Linked DNA regions of Homo sapiens. The protein of the gene in region 5 purifies or fractionates together with the protein of the main gene of each other region. This does not show direct contact. Each region holds a gene or a part of one and is shown on either strand. Other genes may lie near its edges.

What was found.
Region 1: the proteins of HSD3B2 (region 5) and TMEM38A purify together in Homo sapiens (affinity purification with mass spectrometry; 2 studies listed by BioGRID and IntAct, with this or other methods). This does not show direct contact.
Region 2: the proteins of HSD3B2 (region 5) and PC purify together in Homo sapiens (affinity purification with mass spectrometry; 2 studies listed by BioGRID and IntAct, with this or other methods). This does not show direct contact.
Region 3: the proteins of HSD3B2 (region 5) and TCEA1 purify together in Homo sapiens (affinity purification with mass spectrometry; one large-scale study listed by BioGRID and IntAct). This does not show direct contact.
Region 4: the proteins of HSD3B2 (region 5) and LETM1 purify together in Homo sapiens (affinity purification with mass spectrometry; one large-scale study listed by BioGRID and IntAct). This does not show direct contact.
Region 6: the proteins of HSD3B2 (region 5) and WDR36 purify together in Homo sapiens (affinity purification with mass spectrometry; one large-scale study listed by BioGRID and IntAct). This does not show direct contact.
Region 7: the proteins of HSD3B2 (region 5) and WBP11 purify together in Homo sapiens (affinity purification with mass spectrometry; one large-scale study listed by BioGRID and IntAct). This does not show direct contact.

The regions. Positions count from the first base shown.
Region 1 is NC_000019.10:16,685,139-16,687,830, reverse strand, and holds part of TMEM38A (trimeric intracellular cation channel type A), read right to left. Parts: intron 1,544-2,692; coding exon 1,426-1,543; intron 1-1,425. UniProt on the Homo sapiens protein: Intracellular monovalent cation channel required for maintenance of rapid intracellular calcium release. Acts as a potassium counter-ion channel that functions in synchronization with calcium release from intracellular stores.
Region 2 is NC_000011.10:66,867,884-66,871,383, forward strand, and holds part of PC (pyruvate carboxylase, mitochondrial precursor), read right to left. Parts: coding exon 3,432-3,500; intron 3,315-3,431; coding exon 3,169-3,314; intron 3,010-3,168; coding exon 2,892-3,009; intron 2,571-2,891; coding exon 2,419-2,570; intron 1,082-2,418; coding exon 963-1,081; intron 1-962. UniProt on the Homo sapiens protein: Pyruvate carboxylase catalyzes a 2-step reaction, involving the ATP-dependent carboxylation of the covalently attached biotin in the first step and the transfer of the carboxyl group to pyruvate in the second.
Region 3 is NC_000008.11:53,987,949-53,991,448, forward strand, and holds part of TCEA1 (transcription elongation factor A protein 1), read right to left. Parts: intron 312-3,500; coding exon 166-311; intron 1-165. Other genes in the region: LYPLA1-TCEA1 readthrough, read right to left, coding at 166-311.
Region 4 is NC_000004.12:1,846,157-1,849,656, forward strand, and holds part of LETM1 (mitochondrial proton/calcium exchanger protein precursor), read right to left. Parts: intron 3,054-3,500; coding exon 2,993-3,053; intron 1-2,992. UniProt on the Homo sapiens protein: Plays an important role in maintenance of mitochondrial morphology and in mediating either calcium or potassium/proton antiport. Mediates proton-dependent calcium efflux from mitochondrion.
Region 5 is NC_000001.11:119,413,826-119,417,949, reverse strand, and holds the start of HSD3B2 (3 beta-hydroxysteroid dehydrogenase/Delta 5-->4-isomerase type 2), read right to left. Parts: upstream 2,801-4,124; 5' UTR 2,748-2,800; intron 2,620-2,747; 5' UTR 2,531-2,619; coding exon 2,389-2,530; intron 1-2,388. UniProt on the Homo sapiens protein: 3-beta-HSD is a bifunctional enzyme, that catalyzes the oxidative conversion of Delta(5)-ene-3-beta-hydroxy steroid, and the oxidative conversion of ketosteroids.
Region 6 is NC_000005.10:111,095,348-111,098,847, reverse strand, and holds part of WDR36 (WD repeat-containing protein 36), read right to left. Parts: intron 1,770-3,500; coding exon 1,669-1,769; intron 127-1,668; coding exon 9-126; intron 1-8. UniProt on the Homo sapiens protein: Part of the small subunit (SSU) processome, first precursor of the small eukaryotic ribosomal subunit.
Region 7 is NC_000012.12:14,793,479-14,796,978, reverse strand, and holds part of WBP11 (WW domain-binding protein 11), read left to right. Parts: coding exon 1-172; intron 173-1,874; coding exon 1,875-2,008; intron 2,009-2,242; coding exon 2,243-2,442; intron 2,443-3,056; coding exon 3,057-3,248; intron 3,249-3,500. UniProt on the Homo sapiens protein: Activates pre-mRNA splicing. May inhibit PP1 phosphatase activity.

The DNA.
Region 1 (2,692 bases), on a different chromosome or scaffold from region 5:
TGAAGGTCTGTGTCCTCCCAAATTCATATGTTGAAACCTATCACAAAGGTGATGGTATTAGGAGGTAAGGCCTTTGGAGGGGTAATTAGATCATAAGGGTGGAGCCCTCAGGAAAGACATTAGTGCCCTTATAAAGAGGCCCAGGAGAGCTAACCAGTCCCTTCCACCATGCGAGGACACAGTGAGATGCTGCCTATCTGCAACCAGTAAAGAGGGCCCTCACCAGAACCCGACCAGGCTAGTACCCTGATCTTGGACTTCCCAGCCTCCAGAACTGTAAGAAATACATTTCTTCCTTTTCCTTTTTTTGGAGACAGGGTCTCACTCTGTTGCCCAAACTGGAGTGCAATGGCATGATCTCAGGTCACTGCAGCCTCCACCTCCTGGGTTCAAGCAATTCTCATGCCTCAGCCATCCAAGTAGCTGGGATTACAGGCATGCGCCACCACGCCTGGTTAATTTTTGTATTTGTATTTTGTTTGCCTGTTTGTTTGTTTTTGAGACAGAGTCTCAATTTGTTGCCCAGGCTGGAGTGCGGTGGTGCGATCTTAGCTCACTGCAACCTCCACCTCCCGGGTTCAAGCGATTCTCCTGCCTCAGCCTCCCGAGTAGCTGGGATTACAGGCATGTGACCCCACGCCTGGCTAATTTTTGTATTTTTAGGAGAGATGGGGTTTCGCCATGTTGCCCAGGCTGGTCTTGAACTCCTGGCCTCAAGTGATCTGCCTGCCTTGGCCCCCTGAAGTGTTGGCATGAGCCCCCGTGCCTGCCCAGGAATAAATTTCTGTTGTTTCTAAGCCACCCAGTCTATGGTACTGCATTCTGTTATACAGCAGCCTGAATGGACTAAGACATTTGGCCTGGGGTAGAGCTACAAACATAGCAGGACAGGATCCCAGCCATCTGCTTGCCTCTCCCTTCTCGCCTAATGCAGGAAGACATGCTCACTCCCTTTTGACAGCCCTGGAGTCCTCACCCAGGGAAGACACAGCCCTGAGCTAAGATCTTCATGCAGAGGGAGAGAGCCCAGCCCCTGAAGACCCCTCCTGGGTGGGGTGATGTCAACTCAAGGCATGACTGTCAGACTAGAAGTATTCCTGGTCCAACTGAGTTCCTGGGTACCTGATGCTGCCATTTCAGCTTCTTGTCCCTCTGGTCTCTGTACCCAAGAGAGTGGGCCCACCTTGACCCTGGCTCAGGCTGGGTCCTTTACACAGAAGGCCTGTTCCTCTCATCTGTGTCCTGGCTGCTGGACACTGCCTTTTAAACTCTCTTCCCAGTGACCTACTGGCAAGCATCTCCCCTCTCTGGGCTGCCTGTCCCAGCCACATAAGGCTGGGAGTGTCCAATTTCCCCACTCCCAACCTGGAGGTGGCAGGGTGGCATTGGTCAAGGCAAGAATGCTGCAAGAAGAGAAAGGCTTACCTTACAGGACACCATGAACAAGGTGAAGATGAAGATGAGGCTGGCTTTGGACACTGGGAGCCAGCGGGTCTGCTGGAGGGTGAAGAGGATGGCTCCATACAGGCTGGCCTTGGTGGGGCTGGAGGGAGCAGCTGTCATTACCGGGAGGTGCCTGCATGGCTCAAGTCTTCATAACTCTGGCCCAGACACCCCCCTGCCCTGGCACCAGCTCCCATCCCAGCTTCTCTCTTTTCTTTTCCTTTTGAGATGGAATCTCACTCTGTTGCCCAGGCTGGAGTGCAGTGGCACAACCTCGGCTCACTGCAACCTCCACCTCCTTGTTTCAAGTGTTTCTCCCACCTCAGCCTCCCAAGTAGCTGGGATTACAGGCATATGCCACCATGCCTGGCTAATTTTTGTATTTTTAGGAGAGACAGTGTTTCACCATGTTGGCCAGGTTGGTCTCGAACTCCTGGCCTCAAGTGATCTGCTCGGCCTCCCAAAGTGCTGGGATTATAGGCATGAGCCACTGCGCCCAGCCACAGCTTCTCCTGATTGTAAGGTGGCAGGTTGAGATGGTGTCATCCTATGCATGATGGGTTAACCTGGTCCAAGGAAAGATCTGGCCTTTGTCCAGCTCCTGGAATATGCCCTCTAAGCCCTTGGAGTGTCCTGCCTTGATAAGACTGTCTTTGTTTGCCTGAGGACGGCCTTGGGCCACACCAGGTAGTAACAACGTAATTTATGGTGGGGGTCTTGGGCCATGCAGCATCAGGTGGACCTCTAGAGGGGCTGAAGACTGAGGTCAGCCACACAGGTGGTTAGCTAGTTCTGAGCCACAATAAAAATCCTGGATACCCAGGCTCAGAAGAGCTTCCCTGGTTGGCAGTACACCATGCATGTTGTCACACATTGCTGCTGGGAGAATGAAGCCCTGTCCACATGATTCCACTGGGAGAGGAAAACTGGATATTTTCACCTTTTCTTTCCTGTACTCTGCCTCATGCACATTTTGCCCCTGCTGATTTCTTGTTTGTGTATGAGTCAGAGTCTCATTCTGTCACCCAGGCTGGAATGCAGTGGCATGATCTCAGCTCCCTGCAACCTCCACCTCCTGGGTTCAAGTGATTTTCCTGCCTCAGCCTCCCGAGTAGCTGGGATTACAGATGCCCGCCACCACGCCAGCTGATTTTTGTATTTTTACTAGAGATGGGGTTTCGCCATGTCGGCCGGGCTGGTTTTGAACTCCTGACCTCAAATAATCCACCCGCCTCAGCCTCCCAAAGTG
Region 2 (3,500 bases), on a different chromosome or scaffold from region 5:
GACAGCATCCTCAGTCTCAGGTGGGGTTGGGGCTGGGGGCAGAACTGGGGTCAGGGATGCTCCACAGTGAGATGGGCTGGCCCAAAGCAGCGTCAAGAAATTACATGGCTCATAGTAGAGACCTTGAAGGGTGAGGGCCATCATGACTGTCATTTAGAAACCAGGCGGATTTTGAAAATGTCATCCTCAGTGCCTGCAGGGAGCACGCTAGTGCCACCTCTCTAGAGGGCTGTTCCGAGGGATGCTACTTATCCTTCAATCAGATAATCCTGTTGAAGGGTTTACCCTCAGAACTCTTCAGAGCTGAAGCCAAACATTCAGGCACACAGATGATAAGTGACACGCTTAATAACCACCAAAGCCAGACACACAAACTAATTGCCTAACAATCGAGGACTATGTAAGTTAAGAAATACACACAAGACGGAATAGTACGCAGCCACTAAAAGTATTCAGACAGAATTATGGCCTGGGGAAATGCCTTCAACAAATATTAAATAATTTGAAAAGTAGAATAAAAATTCTATATAAAACATCTCTATTGCATCAAACTATGTCTCTAGTAAAACAGGTAAACCGGGAAAGGAGCAAACCAAAGACAGCCGGAGATGCCTGGGTTCCAGCGCCAGCTGTGTGACCCCGAGCAACTCTCCAAATGTCTCTGAGCCTTGCTTTACTCCTCTGACAGATGGGAGCACCTGGGCCTGAGCAATCGGCAGCGTCCTGACAGAGAGGAGGGCTGTCAGTCATTTTTATTTGCTCCTTTGTGCTGATTTTTATAATAACCACGTAATGCTTTTAGAATAATGACTTTTAAAACACTAAGTACCTGGATCCCCATTGCTCTCCACCAATGTGGGGAGTGAGCAAGCCCCCTGGCTGGCCCCAGGAGCCACTTCGCCTGTACTTTATGCAAATCCTAGAAGCCGCGCCTCCCGCCCCGCCTGCCCGCCCACACTCACTCGGTGATCTCCTCTGTGACCGTGTGCTCCACCTGCAGGCGGGAGTTGACCTCGATGAAGTAGTGCTTGCCGTGCCTGTCCACCAGGAACTCCACGGTGCCTGCGTTCTCGTAGCCCACCTGTGGGGGCGGCCACGTGAGCAGGGGAGGGCACAGGCAGGGCCTGGGCAAACTCACTGGACTCAGGACAGGGATTCCGTCCCACCCATTGGGTTGGTTCCGTAAAAGAATGGCCTGTGGCAAACCCTGCCCCCACAGATGGCAGACAGACCCCAGGGCCCAGGTCATGCTCCTGCCTGGACACGTCCCCCAAGTAGTCCACTAGGCTCCAGGGTTCCCGGAGCCACAGATGGCTGCACCCAGCTTATCTGGGACGAGACATGGGCAGAAGCCCCCACCCATCCCAGGCTCGGCACCTTGCCCTGCTGCCTCCTGGGCTTGCCCGCCAAGGCTGTGTCATCCACCCAGACACGGAGACCCAGGCCTCTCCCAGCCGCTGCTTCTGCTTGGAGGTGTTTTCAGAAAGTCCCCTTCTAGTCTACTGCGCAGTCACCTCTGGCCACCACCACCCAAAGAAATTCATTTGAGAGGTACCAACAGATAATGACTCTAACTCAAATTTCAGCCCTAATTCCAGTTTCACTTTTGGTCTCACCAAAACGATAAACCAGACTGAATCACCTCCCTTAAACCTGTTCTGGAATGTGAAATAGTATAAGCCAGTAAATAAGACCTGACTTAAACGCGACCCTGGTCGATGCCTCGCATTAGCTGTGGCTGAGGCCTTGCTGCAGAGTGCACACCCCGGCCTTCGGCATGGGGAGGTGACGCATCCTCTGCTGCCTATAGGCCAGGGAAGAAGAGGGGGCAGGACCCCGCTGCACACCTGGCCACAGCAGGTGCTCTCCAGGCCAGTCCTGGGGCAGGTCACTGTGGGGAGATAGCTTGCCACCTCAGCCTCCTCCACAGCCCAGGACCCCCCGACCAGAGGTCCCAGAAAAGCAGAGATGGGCAGAGGGTGCAGAGCAAGGAAACAGATCATAATAAACATGATGTAGGAGACAGAAGCACATGAGGGAGGACTGCCTTCATAATGGTCCTCAATCTTGACAGAATCCACGGAATCTCATTCTCCTGATGACAGGGATGAGCTGATGCCACAGAGAAGCCAGGTCTGTGTAGCAGCAGGGCTGAGGAGGCGGCTGGGGCTCCTTCCCTCCCTCTTCTCAGCCATCCTGGACTCTAAGCTTGGCCTCTGGGCCAGGTGCCTCAACTGCACATGGGAAGGATGCCACAAACCCACTTCTGGCCCCCAGGAGAGTCCTTCACCCTCTTCTCCCCATCCCCAGTCCCCAGAAGGGGACTCAGGGTCCCCTTCCCCAACCAGCGCCCCACTGTGAGGCCTGCCGGCCTGTGAGCACAGGCTCCTGTCCCAACACGGGAAGCCCACCCTTCACCTGTTTAGCGAGTTTCACAGAGTCGCTGGTGAGCCGAGTCCGAAGCTGCGGGTCCAGGTGGGCGGCGGGGGCAATCTCGACCACCTTCTGGTGCCGCCGCTGGATGGAGCAGTCTCGCTCGTACAGGTGCAGGATGTTCCCATACTGGTCCCCTGGGGAGGGAGGTAAACTGGGCTTAGCTTTTACTGGAATCTACACGCCTCCTAAATGCCCCATCACCCCCACATAACCACTGTCGCCAGTCAGTGCCGGCTGCCAGCGGTACAGAGGCTGCCAGGAGAGACACCAGCATCACCAAGGCTGTGAGGACCAACTGCCAGCTCGGCCCCTAGAGCCCACTTTCCAGAGTCCTCTGGAAAAGCGCCCGACAGGCCCCAGGGCTGTCCCCAAGGCCAGCCACTGTGACGGCACCAGGACTGGGCCTCTCAGCTCCCGCCTCCAGCTGCCCCAGGCGGGGCGTCAGGACCACTCACCCAAGATCTGCACCTCGATGTGCCGTGGCTTCTCGATGAACTTCTCCACAAACAGCGCCCCATTCCCAAAGGCGGCCAGAGCCTCTGAGTAGGCCCGGGTGTAATTCTCCTCCAGCTCCTGCGAGGGCGGGCAGGGGCCAGCCAGACCTCAGACCCCACAGCGCTACCTCTCCCCTGCCATGAACCCCACCCACTTTCCAGATCCCTTGAGTGGTCCGCCCCTGCCCCCACGGCAGGCTGCCCTGCCCTGCTCCCAGCCCTGGGCATCTTCACTCACCTCGTAGCTGTGCACCACCCTCATGCCACGCCCTCCACCCCCATAGGCCGCCTTGAAGATGATGGGGAAGCCGTAGGTGTTGGAGAACTCGTGGGCCTCATGCAGGGACGTGATGGGGGCATCTGTGCCAGGGACAACGGGAACACCTGTTGGGAGAAAGGTGTGGGGGAGTCTCTGTAACAGGCGGGAATCCCTGCCACCCCTCCCTGCTGGACCCTCTCCAGGAGCTGCGGGGCCACCCCTTGCTTGCCCGTTATATTCACCCGCAGCAATGGCGATGGCCCGGGCCTCCACCTTGTCTCCCATCTTGCGGACCACTTCTGGGCTTGGCC
Region 3 (3,500 bases), on a different chromosome or scaffold from region 5:
CTCCCCCTTAACAGACCCGTATCAGCAACAACTTCTCCCCAAGCTAAGCAGCAGTGGGTGGGCTATCCACAGGGTAACACTCATCAAACAGCAATATGGAGTTGGAGATGGCAGTGGTTGTGGGTGGTGACCAAAGGACTGAGAAATAACATGCACTGGACTTACCCCCTGTTCGAAGAGCTGCAGCAAGCATCTCCCTACACTTCAACCGCACAGAATCAGAAGTGCTTGGTGCCCGAGGAAAGGATGAAACATAAGTATCTCGAGCATTTGTCTCATCCTTTCTGTTGCTTACATTGCCGCTGGAAGTACTGAAATACGCACAAACACCCCAAAAAGAAATCAAGAACAATCCTTTCAAAGTAACAATACTACTATCATGCTGTAAAAACAAAATTTGGGGTCTAAATAAATGACACAGTATCTCAGTGACCTTTATGTGATGGAAAAAAAATTGCCTGCATACAGATTAAAAAGAAGTTAAAAATTTTACAATTTAGTAAAGTGACAAGTATGCCTTTTTTTTGAACTAAACATTTTATCTTTGATTCTCATTTTAAATATTAAGCAATATTTTTAATAGAGAAAATACCCATTATAGCTCAGTACAATAAATGAAAAGCAATGATCTTGGTATAAGGAGAGGGATGAAGGGATGGGACCAGAGAATGACAGCTTTCTTTTTTGAGACGGAGTCTTGCTCTGTCACCCAGGCTGGAGGGCAATGGTGCAATCTCGGCTCACTGCAAGCTCCACCTCCCAGGTTCACACCAGAGAATGACAGCTTTCAACCAAAACTAGAGATAGAGAGAGAGAATGCTTGAAAAACTCTGTTTCACTGGGCATGGTGGCTCACAGCTGTAATCCCAGCACTTTGGGAGGCCAAGAGAGGCAGATCACTTGAGGCCAGTAGAGTTCAAATCCAGCCTGGGCAAAATGGTGAAACCCCGTCTCTATTAAAAATACAAAAATTAGCTGGGCGTGGTGGCACACGCCTGTAATCCCAGCTACTTGGGAGGCTGAGGCAGGAAAATCGCTTGAACCCAGAGGCAGAGGTTTCAGTGAGCCAAGACTGCACCACTGCACTCCAGCCTGGGTGACACAGCGAGACTCCACCTCAAAAAAAAAAAAGAACAAAAAGAAAAAGGAAAACCTTGTTCCACTTAGACAGTGAGTTCCCCAGTGAGACAAATACCATGTGTACTGATGAGTCATGAGGCTACAAAATGGTGTGTTTCTCCCCAGAAACATCACCTCGATATGAACATTTAGGCAGTTTTATAATTTTCCAGTCAACCTAATCCTTTCAATTGCTTCTGAGTAGCTTCTTACGTTGGATTATCACTAAAATGGGTTCTTTCCAAAATAATCTTCATGATTACAATTAAGCTTTATCACATTGAAAACAGCTGCCATAACCCTTTTCAAAGACTGATTAAATCATCCACCATCCATAGATGTGGTTTGCTGCAATGCTACAAGAACATACTCCCTTGCCTTCTCTCCAAAACATAACCACTGTTAAACTTCACAAACAGGTGCCTGTGGGTCAGACGGACATTAGTACCTTTTAAATTTAGTCAGTTCCTTTTTGAAGCCTTCACTGATTTCCCCCTGTATTCCCAAAATATTGATTCACACAGGTTTGTATATGATAACTTTTCATACATTTTCTTCTCTATCAGACTGAGTTTCTCAAGAGCAAAAACTAGGATTTACTTTTCTTTGTATTTTCATTATGTAGCATAATGCCTCTCAGTGATAAATGAATGAGCAAACTAATGCTTAAAAACCCATTTATTATTTTTTTTTTTAAGACTCCAGCCTGAGCAACTGAGCAAGACTTTTCACAGTGGTGAAGAGAGCAAGAGTTGTGCAGTGGTGCCATCACAGCTCATGCAGCTTTGAACTCCTGGGCTCAAGCAATCCTCCTGCCTCAGCCTCCTGAGTAACTAGGACTACAGGTGCATGCCACCATGCCCAGTTAATTTTAAAAATATTTTTTGGCCGGGCAAGCTGGCTCATGCCTGTAATCCCAGGAGTTCAAGAACAGCCCGGACAAAATAGTGAGACCCAGGGTCTACAAAAAGAGTTTTAAAAATTTGCCAAACATGGTGGTATGCACCTGTGGTCCTAGCTACTTGGGGGCTGAAGTAGGGGGCTCGCTTGAGACTGAAAGGTTGAGGCTGCAGAAAGCCTTGACTACGCCACTGCACTCCATCCTGGGTAAAAGAGCAAGACTCTGTCTCCAAAAAAAAAAAATAATCCAACAAACAAACCTTTTTTTTTTGGTAGAGAAAGGGTCTATGTTGTCCAGGCTGGTCTCAAACTCCTGACCTCAAGTGATAATTCCGCCTCGGCGTCCTAAAGTGCTTGAGCCACCGTGCCAGGCCCCAAAACTCATTTCTTTTCTTTTTTTTTTTTTTTTTCTTTTGAGACAGTCTTACGCTGTCACCCAGACTGGAGTGCAGTGAAACAACCATGGCTTACTGCAGCCATGACCCCCAAACTCAGACGGTTCTCCTGCCTCAGCCTCCCAAGTAGCTGGGACCACAGGCATGTGCCATCACACCTGTCTAATGCTTTTTATTACTTGTAGAGACAGGGCCTCCCTATGTTGCTCAGGCTAGTCTCAAACTCCTGGGCTCAAGTGATCCCCCTACCTTGACCTCCCAAAAGTGCTGACATTACAGGTGTGAGCCACCACACCCAGCCAAAAACCCAGTTCTTAAACACTTTGATTAAATGCTTTTGCTTCTGTGTCTGTAGCCAAATGCTCCACAGGAACCAAGGGAAATTGCCCATATGGGCTGAGGGAAACTTTTCCTCACTAGTTTCACTACTGCTGGTCCCACTTCCTACATTCTGATCCTTCCTTTCTAAGCATTTAAACACATTACTTTCTTCTTAAATTCTTGCACCCAAAATATAAAATCCTGCTTAGCTACAAGCAACTTAGATTTAACCTTCTATCTTTCTTTACATGACTCCTCAAAATTCATTTCTCAATCCTCCTGTATTTCTGTGTGTGTTGGGGCGGGGATGGGGTGTAGATAGATACCAATCAGTTACTTTATCAGACTTCACATACAGTAATTTTCTTTTGCAGACAGGCTCTATACCTACACGTCAAGCACGTAAAACTGATAAAAGACAACGAGAGGCCAGGCGCAGTGGCTCACGACAGTAATCCCAGTACTTTGAGAGGCCAAGGTGGGTGGATCACTTGAGGTCAGGAGTTCGAGACCAGCCTGGTCAACATGATGAAACCCCATCTTTACTAAAAGTACAAAAATTAGCTGGGTGTGTTGACGTGCACCTCTAATCCCAGCTACTCGGGAGGCTGAGACAGGAGAATCGCTTGAACCTGGGGGACAGAGGTTGCAGTGAGGCAAGATTGTGCCACTGCATTCCAGCCTGGGCAACAGAGCAAGACTCCGTCTCAAAAAAAAAAATAAAAACAAGGCTGGGCGCGGTGGCTCAGGCCTGTAATCCTAGCA
Region 4 (3,500 bases), on a different chromosome or scaffold from region 5:
TCATCCATAATTCTTGATAAGTAGACAAGTCCATCAAAACAGCTGTACAGTCCTCATTGTTTAAATTTTTAAGTAGATGTTCAAAATTGGGAACTTTAAAAAAAGTTACGTGAATAAAGTACAGCTTTTATGTTTTGTTGTTAGCCCAGGCTGGAGTACAGTGGCGCCATCTTGGCTCACTGCAACTGCCACCTCCCGGGTCCCGGTTCAAGCAATTCTCCTGCCTCAGCCTCCTGAGTAGCTGGGATTACAAGAACATACCACCATGCCCAGCTGATTTTTGTATTTTTATTAGAGATGGGGTTTCACCATGTTGGCTAGGCTGGTCTTGAACTCTTGACCTCGTGATCTTCCCGACTCAGCCTCCAAAAGTGTTGGGATTACAGGTGTGAGCCACCGTGCCCGGCCAGCATTTATGTTTTAGTATGAAATTTAAATGCTAAAAAGTTGCTTGACAAATTCAACATCCATTCCTAATAAAAAGAGTAACAGACAGAACAAAGATTACTTAAACCCAAAAGCTAACATCATATGTCACAAACACTAGATCCTGTATTTTCTGCTATTGTGATACCGCATGACTGACTACAGCTGTTCTGACACAGATCTGGCTACTGAGCTAAGAAATGAAACCACCTCAGAAGCAGAAGCCCTGGGAAAGAAGAGGCAGATGATTACTATGTACTAAGATCACAGCCATAAACTAAACCTGGGCTGCTACAAGAGCTGAACAAATAACAGGAAAGGGGCCAGATACAAGAAAATTGTACAACTTAGCAACTTACGGGACAGCAATGATCACTTAGAAAAGATAATGAAAAGAATTAATGAAAATAATAAACATCTGGGAATTATCTAAAATGCAATGCATGTGGCCTATACAAAGAAAACAGGCCGGGTGCAGTGGCTCACACCTGTAATCCCAGCACTTTGGGAGGCCAAAGGCAGGAGGACTGCTTGAGTCCAGGAGTTCAAGAGCAGCCTGGACAACATAGTGAGAACCTGTCTCTACAAAAAATACCAAAAAGAAAAAAATTTAGCAAGGCATGTTGGTAATGCCTGTAGTCCCAGCTACTCAGGAGGCTAAGGTGGGAGAATGGCTTGAGCCTGGGAGATCAAAGCTGCAGTGAGCCATGATTGCACCACTGCACTCTAGCCTGGGCAATGAACAGAATGAGATCCTGTCTCAAAAAAAAAAAAAAAAGTAATATTCCTTCCCAACTGGTTTAATGACACTTCAGATACAATCCCAAAAAGACTGTTTTAGAAGTAAAATGGTTCAGCTCATCTAGAAGGAAGGTCCAGACTGACGAGGTTTGGGGGAACTGGTCCCCAGGGAGGAACAACTGCTGGAGAACTCACTAAAGAAAATAACGGGAGCAGCTAGGCGCAGTGGCTCACACCTGTAATCCCAGCACTTTGGGAGGCCGAGGTAGGTGGATCATCTGAGGTCAGGAGTTTGAGATGAGCCTGGCTAATGTGGTGAAAATTTTGTACTTTTGTACTAAAAATGCAAAAATTAGCTGGGTGTGGTGGCGGCGTCTCTAATCCCAGCTACTAGGGAGGCTGAGGCAGGAGAATCGCTTGAACCCGGGAGGCAGAGGTTGCAGTGAGCCGAGATTGCACCACTGCACTCTAGCCTAGGTGACAAGAACAAAACTCGGTCTCAAAAAAAAAAAAAAAAAAAAAAAATTAGCTGGGTGTGGTGTGCGCGCCTGTAATCCCAGCTACTTGGGAGGCTGAGGCAGATAACTGCTTGAACCCGGGAGGTGGAGATTGCAGTGGGCAGAGATCACGCCACTGCATTCCAGCTTGGTGACAGCGCGAGACTCTGTCTCAAAAAAAATAAAAATAAAAAAAAAAAAGAAAATGCAACCTTAAGGAAAAAGACATAAGAAAACCAATTTCTTTTCTCATCCAAAGTTATAATAAAACGTTATTCGTGGACCTTAAAGTTGCAGTTTCTGCCAGGCATGGTGGCTCACACCTATAATCCCAGCACTTTGGGAGGCTAAGGCAGGCAGATCACGGGAGGTCAGGAGTTCAAGACCAGCCTGGCCAACATGGTGAAACCCCGTCTCTAATAAAAATACAAAAATTAGCCAGGTGCGGCCGGACGCGGTGGCTCATGCCTGTAATCCCAGCACTTTGGGAGGCCATGGCGGGCGGATCACGAGGTCAGGAGATTGAGACCATCCTGGCTAACACGGTGAAACCCCATCTCTACTAAAAATACAAAAAATTAGCCGGGCGTGGTGGCGGGCGCCTGTAGTTCCAGCTACTTGGGAGGCTGAGGCAGGAGGATGGCATGAACCCGGGAGGTGGATCTTGCAGTGAGCTGATATTGCGCCACTGCACTCCAGCCTGGGTGACAGAGCGAGACTCCGTCTCAAAAAAAAAAAAAAAAAAATTAGCCAGGCGCAGTGAGGCATGCCTGCAATCCCAGCTACTCGGGAGGTTGAAGCAGGAGAATCACTTGAACCTGGGAGGCGGAGGTTGCAGTGAGCCAAGCATGTGCCACTGCACTCCAGTCTGGGTGACAGAGCAAGGCTCTGTCTCAAAAAAAAAAAAAAAAAAAAAGAAAAAAAAAAAGTCGCAGTTTCCAAGAACCTACAGACATTAAATGAGACTTGCTGTACATCAAAATACTGACACTGGGCACTTTGAGGGCACAGTTGCCAGTGCCCACTCCAACTGGGAGTCCAACAATTAAATTCCATTTAATTCCTGTTAGGGGACAGGAAGCCTTCTGTCCCCAGCTCTCCAAGTGCAACTGGGCACTGAGGTTAGGAATGTTTCTATACTGTCTATAGATTCACTGAGGCATGTGACAATCATTTTCAAAATGGAAAGATAAAGGTTTAAAAGAAACAAAGAACAGGAAAGTAGGATACACTGTTTCCCTCAAAAATCAAGAGTCACTCGTGACTCTCCACCATTTTCAAACCCTGTTTTCAAACAGACAGGTGCAGAGTGATACTGATTTACTCACAGGCAGTTCCTCAACCCCAGGGTGCTGGCACAGCTGAGATGAGCAGGATCCCCTGGACTACCTGTAACAGGAACAGGGGAAAATAAATGAGTAGTAAATCAGGGATTTATACTGATACCTTTTTTTGTTGTTGGTTTTTGGAGTTTCGCTCTTGCGCCCAGGCTAGAGTGCAATGGCGTGATCTCGGCTCACTGCAACCTCCACCTCCTGGGTTTAATTGATTCTCCTGCCTCAGCCTCCTGAGTAGCTGGAATTACAGGTGCCCACCACCATGCCCAGCTAATTTTTTTTTTTTAGTAGAGACAGGGTTTCATTCACCATGTTGGCCAGGCTGGTCTCAAACTGCCGACCTCAGGTGATCCGCCCGCCTTGGCCTCCCAAAGTGCTGGGATTACAGGCATGAGCCACCGTGCTCAGCCTTTTGTTCATTTTGATTTATTTGACTTTGCCCAGGCTGGAATGCAGTGGTACAGTCACGGCTCCCTGCAGCCTTGAACTCCTGGGCTCA
Region 5 (4,124 bases):
AGTCCCACTTTATTGGTGAGGAAACTGAGGCTCAGAGAGGTTAAGGGACAGATCTAAAGTCAATTTTCTAGTGAAGGCTCAAACCTGCCCATTCCACCTGCCATTTTTGTACCCTGTACCCCAGGTGCAGGAATAGCTGTTTAGAATCAACTTTTCTGAGAAAGAGTAAGAATAAGCCAGTTTAACTGAAAATGCCCACAAAGGCCAAAGAACAGTGAGAGCGAAATTCAGAATGAAAAATTCAAGGCTGGAGAAATTCCTTCCTGGGATACAGGTGGGACCATTTGCTCTTCTGATGCCTCTGCCTTGTTTTGTCTACTCCCAGCCCCTTCCCACTGTCAGGCAACTCCAAGAAGGCCCTGGAATGGTGGAGGCAGGGAAGAGGCTGCTGGGGAGGAGGTGGGTGTCAGCCCGAGAGTGGAATTTTCTCTGGTTGTATTTCCACCTCTACCTTTTCTACTCCCTTCATCTGCTTCTCCTTTGCTGCCGACTTTAGACAGACTGGCTCAAAGGAATTGCCATTTCATAGCAGAAGTCCAAAGCCGATAGAAAATGACTCTTCCCCGGTGAGTTTCCATGGATCTAGAGAGACCAGAAAAGCGCAATTTTTGATGGAGTCTTAGCTCCCTCCTTCTCCAAGGCACTGTGGACTTGGCAAGTGTTTCATGTAGACTAAATTCAGTTGCTTTTGTGTTGTGTGTTGGGCTGGAGGGAGGCTCAGAGAAGCTGCTAGACAAACTACTACTTAAGAGCACAGAAGCTGCACTAGACTGCCTGGATTCAAATCCAGCTTTGCCGTAATCTAACTTGGGACCTTCGACAAGTTGATTAACCTCTCTGTGTCTGTCTCCTCATCTATAAAAAAGGAGGATAATAGTATTACCCATCTCATAGGGTTGTTATGGGAAGTAAATGAGTCAGCACATGCAAAACCTTTAGCACAGTGCCTGGCACAGAAAGAACACTGAAAGGATTCTCTGTTTTTATCTTCATACAGGCCCTGCCCATCCATTATGCTCCCTGCATTTTCACCATAGCAGAACTCTTCCTCTAGACTGAGCATTGCTTTTTCCTGGTATCAGATGTTAGATTGTAAATATTGCTGAGACATAAGGATTACAAACATTTAATATCAGTCATGTGTTAATATCTGTTCACTATTAGAACAGAGAGTGGAGGAAATTGGACATTTAAAGAGGTCAGAGAAGAGTGAAAGAAGAGGAGAGTGTCAAGGGGAGCTTCTGTGTGAACAGGGCAGGACCTTCTAGGCAGCCAGAACCTGCATGAAGAAGATACATAGTTCCCCCAGTCCCCTGGGTTGGGAGGAAAACATGGAATTGGTTTGGGGCACACAGAGAGGCAAAGGGAGAGACTGAAGACCCACCAAGGATTAGCCCGGGGGTCAAGTGATGAAGCTTCTGGAATGAAGCTCTGGTCTGAGCTCTGCTACACATTAATCAGCTGTTCTTGGCAAGTAACTTTATGTTTCTGGAACTTGATGGGTTCATTGTCCAGTTGGAGGTGACCCCTTTTCTACCTTCCTCACAGGGTTATTTGCACAAAGAGTTACTACAGCAAATTCTGCAGTCAATTTATTTGGAGTATTGAACAACAGATACAAATGGTTTTTTTTTAAAAAGGCTATATATGAGAAATATAAATGAGGCATGTTGGCCTCATACTGCCTTTTACTCTGTCTCTGCTCTGTGCCGTGCACTTGTGCATGCTCTCTTTCTCTCTTTCTCTCTCTCTCACTGATGATCTCTCTCACTTTCACTCTCTCTCTCTTGCTGATGCTCTCCCTCACACTATCTTTCTCATTCATTCTCTGTCTTTCTCATTCTCTGTCTCTGACCTTCTTTCCCCCTCATTTTCTTTCTCTGTCTGACACACACACACAATTACACACACATCCGTACCTTCACTTCCTTTTATTTTGCCCTCACTAAAGATACTAAGGAAGCTATAAAATGAAATGAAGCCTGGGGCAGTCTAGACAGGCAGGACCCACTGGTGAGGTCTCCAGGTAAATGATGTCCTTTGTGAATGTCGCACAGCAATCGCCAAGACAAAAAGCTTCAGAACATAAGAGTTGTAGACAAGAAGGAGAACTCATGTGTGACTCTCTAGAAGAGAAGAAAAGGGGCCTTGAGGCTGACATGGCTGCCTCTCAAGTTCTGCGTCAGGGCCAGAATCCAGTCTCTGGACACCCCATCCAGTATCTTTCACACTATACCATTTTATTCTATTTCCTTTCTGATGACTTTAGATGTGTGACTGGCTTTCATTTGGCTACAACTTTCCTTAACTTGCTAGACAAGGTCAACCTCCCCACACCCATGCAGAGTTTAAGATGGAGCCACAGACCCATGACTCAAGTTTACTTACTAGAAAATTCCTCTCTCAATTCTGGTCTGAAGGCCTTGTCCAAGGCCCTGATCTCCTTCAGTTCCTTCTCTTCCACCAACAGGCGGACGATCCTCTGACCCAGAAGCCCTCCTGCTCCTGTCACAAGGCAGCTCCAGCCCATCGTGGCCAATCCAAAGTAGCAGGAAACACTTGCCAGGAAACAGAAGATGCTGGAGAGCAGATCTGATTCTAGCGTGACCCAGAAGAGGGCTAAAAACAAGAGGTAAAATGGTTATACACTCAGCAGATGCCTTATTTTCCTCCACCCCATTTTTTACAAAAATTCCATGACCCCACAACTGCCAGGAGTAGTTGAAAGAAAAGGAGAAAGCTCTAACCGTAACTTAGATTGTTAAAAGCTGGACAGAGGAGTCCAAGTCCTTACTGCCTCATCCCTGGAGGAAGGACTGGAGCTTTATGCTCTGTGGCTTGTGTCTCAGCCCTTATTACCTTGAACTCCTGCCACATACTCATTGCTCCCTCCTCCTCCAGAATCCCTTTTCTCAGAATAATAGTGACCTTTAGGTTATATCTCTAATTCTTCCCAGGAACAGGAAGAGAAATCCAATCTTAAGGCCACAGTGTGATAAAGAGTCTTGGCTTTAGCCTTAACAGAACACTGGTCAGTTGATACCAGCTGTCTGGGATCTGCAATCTGTGAACTTAAACCAAACTGGGAGAAGTCTCCAAGTGCAATGTAAATGTTGTCCTTGTACAGTAAATCCACCTGGAGGGAGATCTATTTTAGCCCATTATCAACTCTCTGAGAGTGTCATTTGAAACGTCACTGCTGTCTTGCAAAGTTTAGAAATTTTCAATGGTGACAGCTCCAATCACTAAGTTTTATGTGAGGTGACTTTCTTTTCCACCCAATATATCCAAAACCTCAATTGCAATTTTTCCCTGGAGAGCTCTGGGTTCCTAATGGAAGAACCTCATTGAAGGAAAGGTATCTAGTGATAACGAATTAATCATATGGCCTGTAATACAAGTGTGGGGATTTGTAGTTGTATGCCCAATGACTCTAATCATAGATATTTGCACTCATCTTACATTTTTGGCTGCAAAACCATTCTTAGCAAATTGTTGAACTGAAGATGCTATGAATGCTTCTGAAACCTATGCCCCAGTCTGCCCAAACATCACTGCCATAAACTCCCCAAGACACTTTTCTCTACTTAAAAAAATAGAGATGTAGTTTTTTTAAGTAGATGTAATCTGGGCATTACAAGGCCCAGATCTTAAGCGTTCAGTGTACACTTAAGTGTTCATTGTCAATGAACCTTGACAGTTATATATGTCCATGTAAGTACCAACGAAAAGAAGACCACCATTTCCTTCACTCCAGAAAGTTTTATCTGCCTGTTCTTAGTCAATTGCCTGCCCTCCCCCGAGTTTACCTGGTAGGCAATTACTTTCTGATTTTTATTCCCACAGAGTTCCCACTTTATTCCTATATTTTCCTAATTTTTTCTTCTAAGATCTTTGTGATTCTGGATATATATTTAAATATAAAATCATTCTGAACTGAAGTTTTGTTCATGGAGTACAGAAAAATTGACCACTGATTGTCTCTATTGTTTGTTCATTTTTCTATTTCATGATTTTCATTATTTTTATTATTGGCTTAAATGTTTATTAACTTTGGGTTTATTTTACTCTTCTTTTTCAGGGTTCTTATGATAAAAGCATAGATAATTGACTTTACTTCTTTG
Region 6 (3,500 bases), on a different chromosome or scaffold from region 5:
ACTCTTACCTTCTGAATATATGTGCCAAATAATAAGAATGCCATCAGTATCAACAGAGATAATGTGGTCTCCAAAGGGTTGCAAGAAATGGATTTCTGCCTTATGACCCTTAAAGGTATGTACTATCTAAAACATCGAAGTTTAAAAGAATTTCATATTATTACTCAGTCATCATGTCATATTATTCATATTATCCCAAAAACATGCTAATCCTGAGATGCTTCTGTTAAGAAATGTACCCCAACTTTTGATTATTCAAGGTTAGGATGAACACATAAATATTAAGGGACCAGGCATGTTCATCTGCTCCCTCAGCCAGTTCAACAATAAGGAAGTAAACTGTCCATTAAGAACAAAGAAATGAGACCTCTGAGGCTCTGCCTTCCATCTTGGGTTAGAGAGGAGGCATGCACACACACCTAGTTCCCTCACCCAATTCAATCAGTGCAACTACATATATCCTAGCGAGATGGTATATTCCAGAAGGCTGATCTCTAAAGACTCCATCACCAACTGGCTTTCAGATGAGATGGGAAAGGGGGATATAGGGTCTTCTTCCCCATACCCTTCTGCTTTGACAGAGATCCTTACAGTAGCTGATCCCTCCATAAGTATAGCCCCTTCTCCATGGTTTCAGTTCTCACTAGATTCCAGTAACACTGTTTCCTCTCCTTGGCCCTTTGGCCTTAGGGGTGGTAACAACTTCCTACAGTTGACAGTGTCTGACGCCTCCCCACCCCTATTTTGTTCCCCTAACCCTGACCACACCTGTGCATAAAGGTCCTTTATTAAAGTCTCCACATCTGAACCACATATAGGTTATACATATAGGATAAAGTCTCCTCATGTAAATCACATATATCTCCCTGGGAAAACTATAAACAACAATACAAAAATGAACATTTTTTCCAATTCTAAAAATCTGAACACCTTCCATTAAAGAACTCTACAGATAAGTTACCTTCCTCTGCCACAGGAAGTGATGATGAAAGACTGTGGGAACCACCTCACTCCAAGTCCCTGACAAGTACAGTGATACTATCATTTGGCTATCTTTGTACCCCCATTCCTACATTTCCTTTCATTCTAGACCATTAAGGCCAGGTCACTTCTCAAGCTAGTTGTTCCAGGACAAATTCAGAAACCAACTGGTAGATTTAGACCAGAAAAGATCTTTCCTTAGCAGTGGAGAAAACATAGAATCTAGCTTTCTCTAAACAGCGAACAGGCATCTGATTTTTAGAAAAAGAGTTATAAGCTAAGTTATACATAATAAATAACCAATCCACATAAAGTGGTGGTGCAAATATGAATTTTCTAGGAAAGTATTTTAAAACTACACTTAATAATACACATTATGTCCTATCTCAACAAATATACAAAATAGAAAACTCCTGAGATGGGAACTAACGGCATAAAAAATTTTGAAGAAGGTCTCCAAGTAATTTTGATATTCATCTCTGGCAAAGAAACTGAAGTAAAGCACCAGTTTTAAGTAAGCCTTTTCTGAAAATTTATCTTCCTCCAGAAAACTGAATATACATTAGAAAAAAAAGAATACTGTATAGTTCCAGAGTGTGCTGGGTAAAGAATGACAAAATTAAAGTTCCCTCCACTATCATGACAAACAAATACTGACTGACAAACAAGTAGTTTAGCGATACCAACCTCTTTATTACGGGCAAATGCAGAGAAAACATTTCCATAAGCAGCAAAGACTAATCTGCCATCAGCTGCCATACAGCAGATATCCTGTGGAACAGAATTACCTAGCAGAAAATACAAAATGAAAGAAACAGGGATTTTTAAGATGTTAAAGAGAAACCTCAAGTATACATATAACATTTTTCATGGCTATAATTTAAAAAAATATATAAATAAAGATCAAAGTTGAGAATCAGTGTATAAAATTTTAACTAAAATATTTTAGATATCTAATAGTAACTATCAAACTAAGGATAGGAAATCACCTTGTCCTTCCCTAAGAGAATGTCTAGGATTTGCAGAAATAAAAACATAATCCTAGAGAAATGAAAACAAGCTTTTTGAGGTTATTTGGAAAAAACTGTCATTTGAAACACAAAGCTCTGACAGATAGTCATCCAGTCTTCACGTGAACATCTTTTTTTTTTTCTTTTTTTTGAGAGACGGAGTCTTGCTGTGTCACTCAGGCTGGAGTGCAGTGATGCAATCTTGGCACACTGCAACATCCGCCTCCCAGGTTTAACTGATTCTCCTGCCTCAGCCTCCCAAGTAGCTGGGATTATAGGAGTGCACCACCACACCCGGCTAATTTTTGTATTTTTAGAAGAGACAGGGTTTTGCCATGTTAGACAGGCTGGTCTTGAACTCCTGACCTCAGGTGATCTGCCCACCTCGGCCTTCCAAAGTGCTGGGATTACAGGCGTGAGCCACATGCCTAACCCATGTGAGTATCTTCTGGAACATCAAGTTCACTAATAACTCCAGAAAAATTTTAAAAGTAACTCAAAATCTAAATCTCTAACTCTACCCTTTGGACCAACCCAAAAATATTACATATGGTATTCTATATGCCTATTCCTAAAACATTTAAAGACAATATTGTTTCTACAGTCTTCTCCAAGGGAAATATGCCTATCAATCTTTAGCATTTCTCACGTGACATATGATTCTTCTCTCAGTATCCTGGTCACACTGACCTTTTCATTTCCTCTTTTGGGGCAGGAGGGTTAGTAGACACAGGATTGTTGTACTTTTCATGCTGCAAATTCCATATTAGTATTTGTTTGCATAACCCTGTTTTATAAGTTTATCATTCACTTTTGTATTCAACTTAAGTTCCAATGCCTTTCTTCTGCCTTCTAATCTATTATTAAAATATAAGTTTAATACACATACACATTACAGTCCTTGTAGGTCTTCTGTTTCTCTCACAAGAACCATATTTGATGGTAAAACAAGTACCTCTCTGCCCTGAGAAATGTTTTATTCTATTAGATAGTTTAAAAAAAAACCCTTCCATTGGAAAGAAATACCAAAATGTGAGAAAAGGGAAAACTTCTCCTTACAGTAGAAGGAATGATGGCAAAAGAAAATCACTATAGGCTGACTATGCTTTATCTGAAATGTTTGAGACCAGAAGTGTTTCAGATTCCGGATTTTTTTGGATTTTGGACTATATGTATAACCAGGTGAATGTTCCTAATCTGAAAATCTGAAATCGGAAATGTTCCAATGAATATTTCCCTGTTAACGTCATGTTGGCTCTCAAAAAGTTTCAGACTTAGGAGCATTTTGGGTTTCAAATTTTTGGATTAAGGATAATCAACATGCATTTGGCAACCATCATACTAATAACTGATTCAGGCAAGTATCATCATAAAATATAAAAGCAGCAGGTAATAACTTTGAAGAGTACTAAGATATTTACATAGTCCCAGTGCATACTACCAAAAGATACTTATTCGTTACAAATGACAAAACACTAACTTAAAAATAGAGCCTCCTAACCAATCACT
Region 7 (3,500 bases), on a different chromosome or scaffold from region 5:
ATTAAATGAGAAAGTACTGAAAGACAAGCGTAAAAAGCTGCGTGAAACCTTTGAACGTATTCTACGACTCTATGAAAAAGAGAATCCAGATATTTACAAAGAATTGAGAAAGCTAGAAGTAGAATATGAACAGAAGAGGGCTCAACTTAGCCAATATTTTGATGCTGTCAAGGTAATCAAGGTTTTTTTTTTGAGAGATAAACTAAAATATTATACAGATTGAGTATCCCTTATGCAAAGTGCTTGGGACCAGAAGTGTTTTGGATTTAGGGTTGTTGGGTTTTTTTTATATTTTGTTTTGTTTTTGTGTATATTTGCATATATTTTGGGGATGGAACCCTAGTCTAAGCATGAAATTTATGTTTCATATACACATAGCCTGAAGATAATTTTATAAATTTTGTGCATGAAACAAAACTACGACCCATCACATTAGGTCAGGTGTGGATTTTTCCACCATGGCATCATATGGGAGTCAAAAAGTTTAGGATTTTGGAGCATTTTAGATATTCAGATTAGGGATGCTCAGCCTATACTTAGATTTAAAAAGTTAATGGGAGAATGTCATGTTGAACCTCTTCCTTATAGCAGTTTCTTCTAAAACTAAACATATACCTACTGTGTGAACCTGCAAATCTAATCCTCTTTATTTAAACAGAAGAAATTAATTCAAAAACTTGGATCAGCCTAAGTGTTCACTAATAGGATAATGGATAATTAAACTGTAGCATATTTATACAATAGAATACTATTCAGCAATAAAAGGAATAATCTAATACTCAAAACAGCATGGAATAAAAAAAGAAAAATTGTGAGTAAATCTCAAAAACATGCTAAGTTTATCTCATTGTTATGATTTCATTTTTATGAAATTCTAGAATAGTCACAGATAATCTGTGCAGGAAAAAAAAATGTAGCCGTGGTTGCCTTGGGGGATGATATTAGAGATGGATTGGGAAGGAGTATGAGGTATATGCATTTGTCAAAACTTACTGAATTTGTAAATTTCGTAAATTTTACCTCAAAATAAAGATGGGAAAAAATCAAATGCTATAATTTCTGTAAAGGAGGTAATATGTCTCCCATTTTACAGATGAAGGCACAGGTTACCTTGCTTAGTCAAACTAAGCTAATACACAACAGAAATTCAACATAGGCAAGCTAATGAGCCCAACCTCCACCACTGGATATATACTATTTGTTAGTTGACATATATTATTTTTCTTTTTTTTGTTTATTTTTTGTTTTTGAGACCGAGTCTCACTCTGTTGCCCAAGCTGGAGTGCAGTGGCACCATCTTGGCTCACTGCAACCTCTGCCTCCCAGGTTCAAGCAATTCTCCTCCCTCAGCCTCCTGAGTAGCTGGGACTACAGGCACACGCCACCACAACTGGCTAATTTTTGTAGTTTTATTAGAGATGGAGTTTCACCATATTGGCCAGGCTGGTCTCAAACTCCTGAGCTTGTGATCGACCTGCGTCAGCCTCCCAAAATGCTCGGATTACAGGTGTGAGCTACCACGCCCAGCCTGACATGTATTTTTCTATCACATGTTAAATAGGGTAGTTCTGGTGCTAGATACTTGTAACAGTTGGCTTTCTCTAGACAACAGCTGTTTCGAATCATCCAAAAAGAATTACCTGATAAGAGGAGAAAAAAAACAGCTGGGTTCTGACGTTTTTAGAAGTAAAGATTTCTTTCAGTTCTTTGACAATGTGGAAGTATTGACGTAAGGTTATTTTTCTGGGGGTTTTTGGTGATATTTATGTTAGTTGGAAAGCATGTCCAAGTTACGAAACAGCTGACTTGTCATTTTTAGTGTTTAGTTAGTAGATGACTTTTTTATCATACTACTGAATGGTTCTCTGTTTCAGAATGCTCAGCATGTGGAAGTGGAGAGTATTCCTTTGCCAGATATGCCACATGCTCCTTCCAACATTTTGATCCAGGACATTCCACTTCCTGGTGCCCAGCCACCCTCTATCCTAAAGAAAACCTCAGCCTATGGGTAAGGAAGCAGTGTCACAATCAGAGAGCATTTAGTAAAGGCACAAGTTGACTGTCCAGTGCCAAAATTAATGCAGAGGGAAATAAAAGACAATATGGATGTAAACAGTGTGACATTTGATTAAATGTAAAATAAGAAATCCCTTGAAAATTGTTTAGAAGAGAAAATAAATATCTCATTACTGTTAAGTGATTACTGTGGGGGTTTTTTTGTTTTTGTTTTTTTTTTTAACAGACCTCCAACTCGGGCAGTTTCTATCCTTCCTCTTCTTGGACATGGTGTTCCACGTTTGCCCCCTGGCAGAAAACCTCCTGGCCCTCCCCCTGGTCCACCTCCTCCTCAAGTCGTGCAGATGTATGGCCGTAAAGTGGGTTTTGCCCTAGATCTTCCCCCTCGTAGGCGAGATGAAGACATGTTATATAGTCCTGAACTTGGTGAGAAGTGACTGTTCTTTTGCTTTTATAACTATCATTTTTTATGTTGGCCCTGTTTAACATATTGTTCACCACCCTCAGAACTTAGAAAGTAAATGAGAGGGTATCATGTACATAACTAATATACATACAGTTGGATAAATCATAGGATCTTCTCAAGTAAAAGCATCATACATAAGTATAGAAATGTTTATCGTGTTTTAAATTAGGCTTTTCCTGGAGATGTCACTCTTGCTGCTAATCCTTTAAGACTTGTATATCTGGTTCCCTTTTAGCTTTATTGTCATCAGACTAGAGCGTCATTGTATACATTCACTGACTGTGTATGTGTATACAAACATGATTGTTGCTAAAGGAGGAAATGGGTTTTCAAATTAGAACTCTTTTTAAAAAAATCTTAAATTACCAAAAAGAAGTGTTTAAAATTATTGGCAGAGGAAAATTTTGTTAGACTGTATGAGTAGCTATATATACAAGAATTTTTTTTTTTTTTTTTTGGTAAGAATTAAGTTGTTACAGTCTGAGTTGAATAGCATAATTTTCTGTATTTCTGGGTACCATGTAGTGGAGGGTCCAATCATACTACTTCTCCATGTTCCCTTCCCACTTTTCAGCCCAGCGAGGTCATGATGATGATGTTTCTAGCACCAGTGAAGATGATGGCTATCCTGAGGACATGGATCAAGATAAGCATGATGACAGTACTGATGACAGTGACACCGACAAATCAGATGGAGAAAGTGACGGGGATGAATTTGTGCACCGTGATAATGGTGAGAGAGACAACAATGAAGAAAAGAAGTCAGGTATGTGCAGATGAAGGATTCATGGTATTGATCAATAAAGAGAAAACAAGCTGAAGGTCCTAATTTATTAATGAATCTGTGAGAGTACTCTGAAATCTTTGGAAGTCGGGATCATAGCTGTGTTCATCTTATATATTAAAATTTTGAAAGTTTTTGACACAGTAAGTACTCAGTGGATGTTTATGAGGAAAAGCATTAAACTGTATGTAATAAAAATGTCTATGTAATAAAGTTCACTTTGGGGTAAAAGGT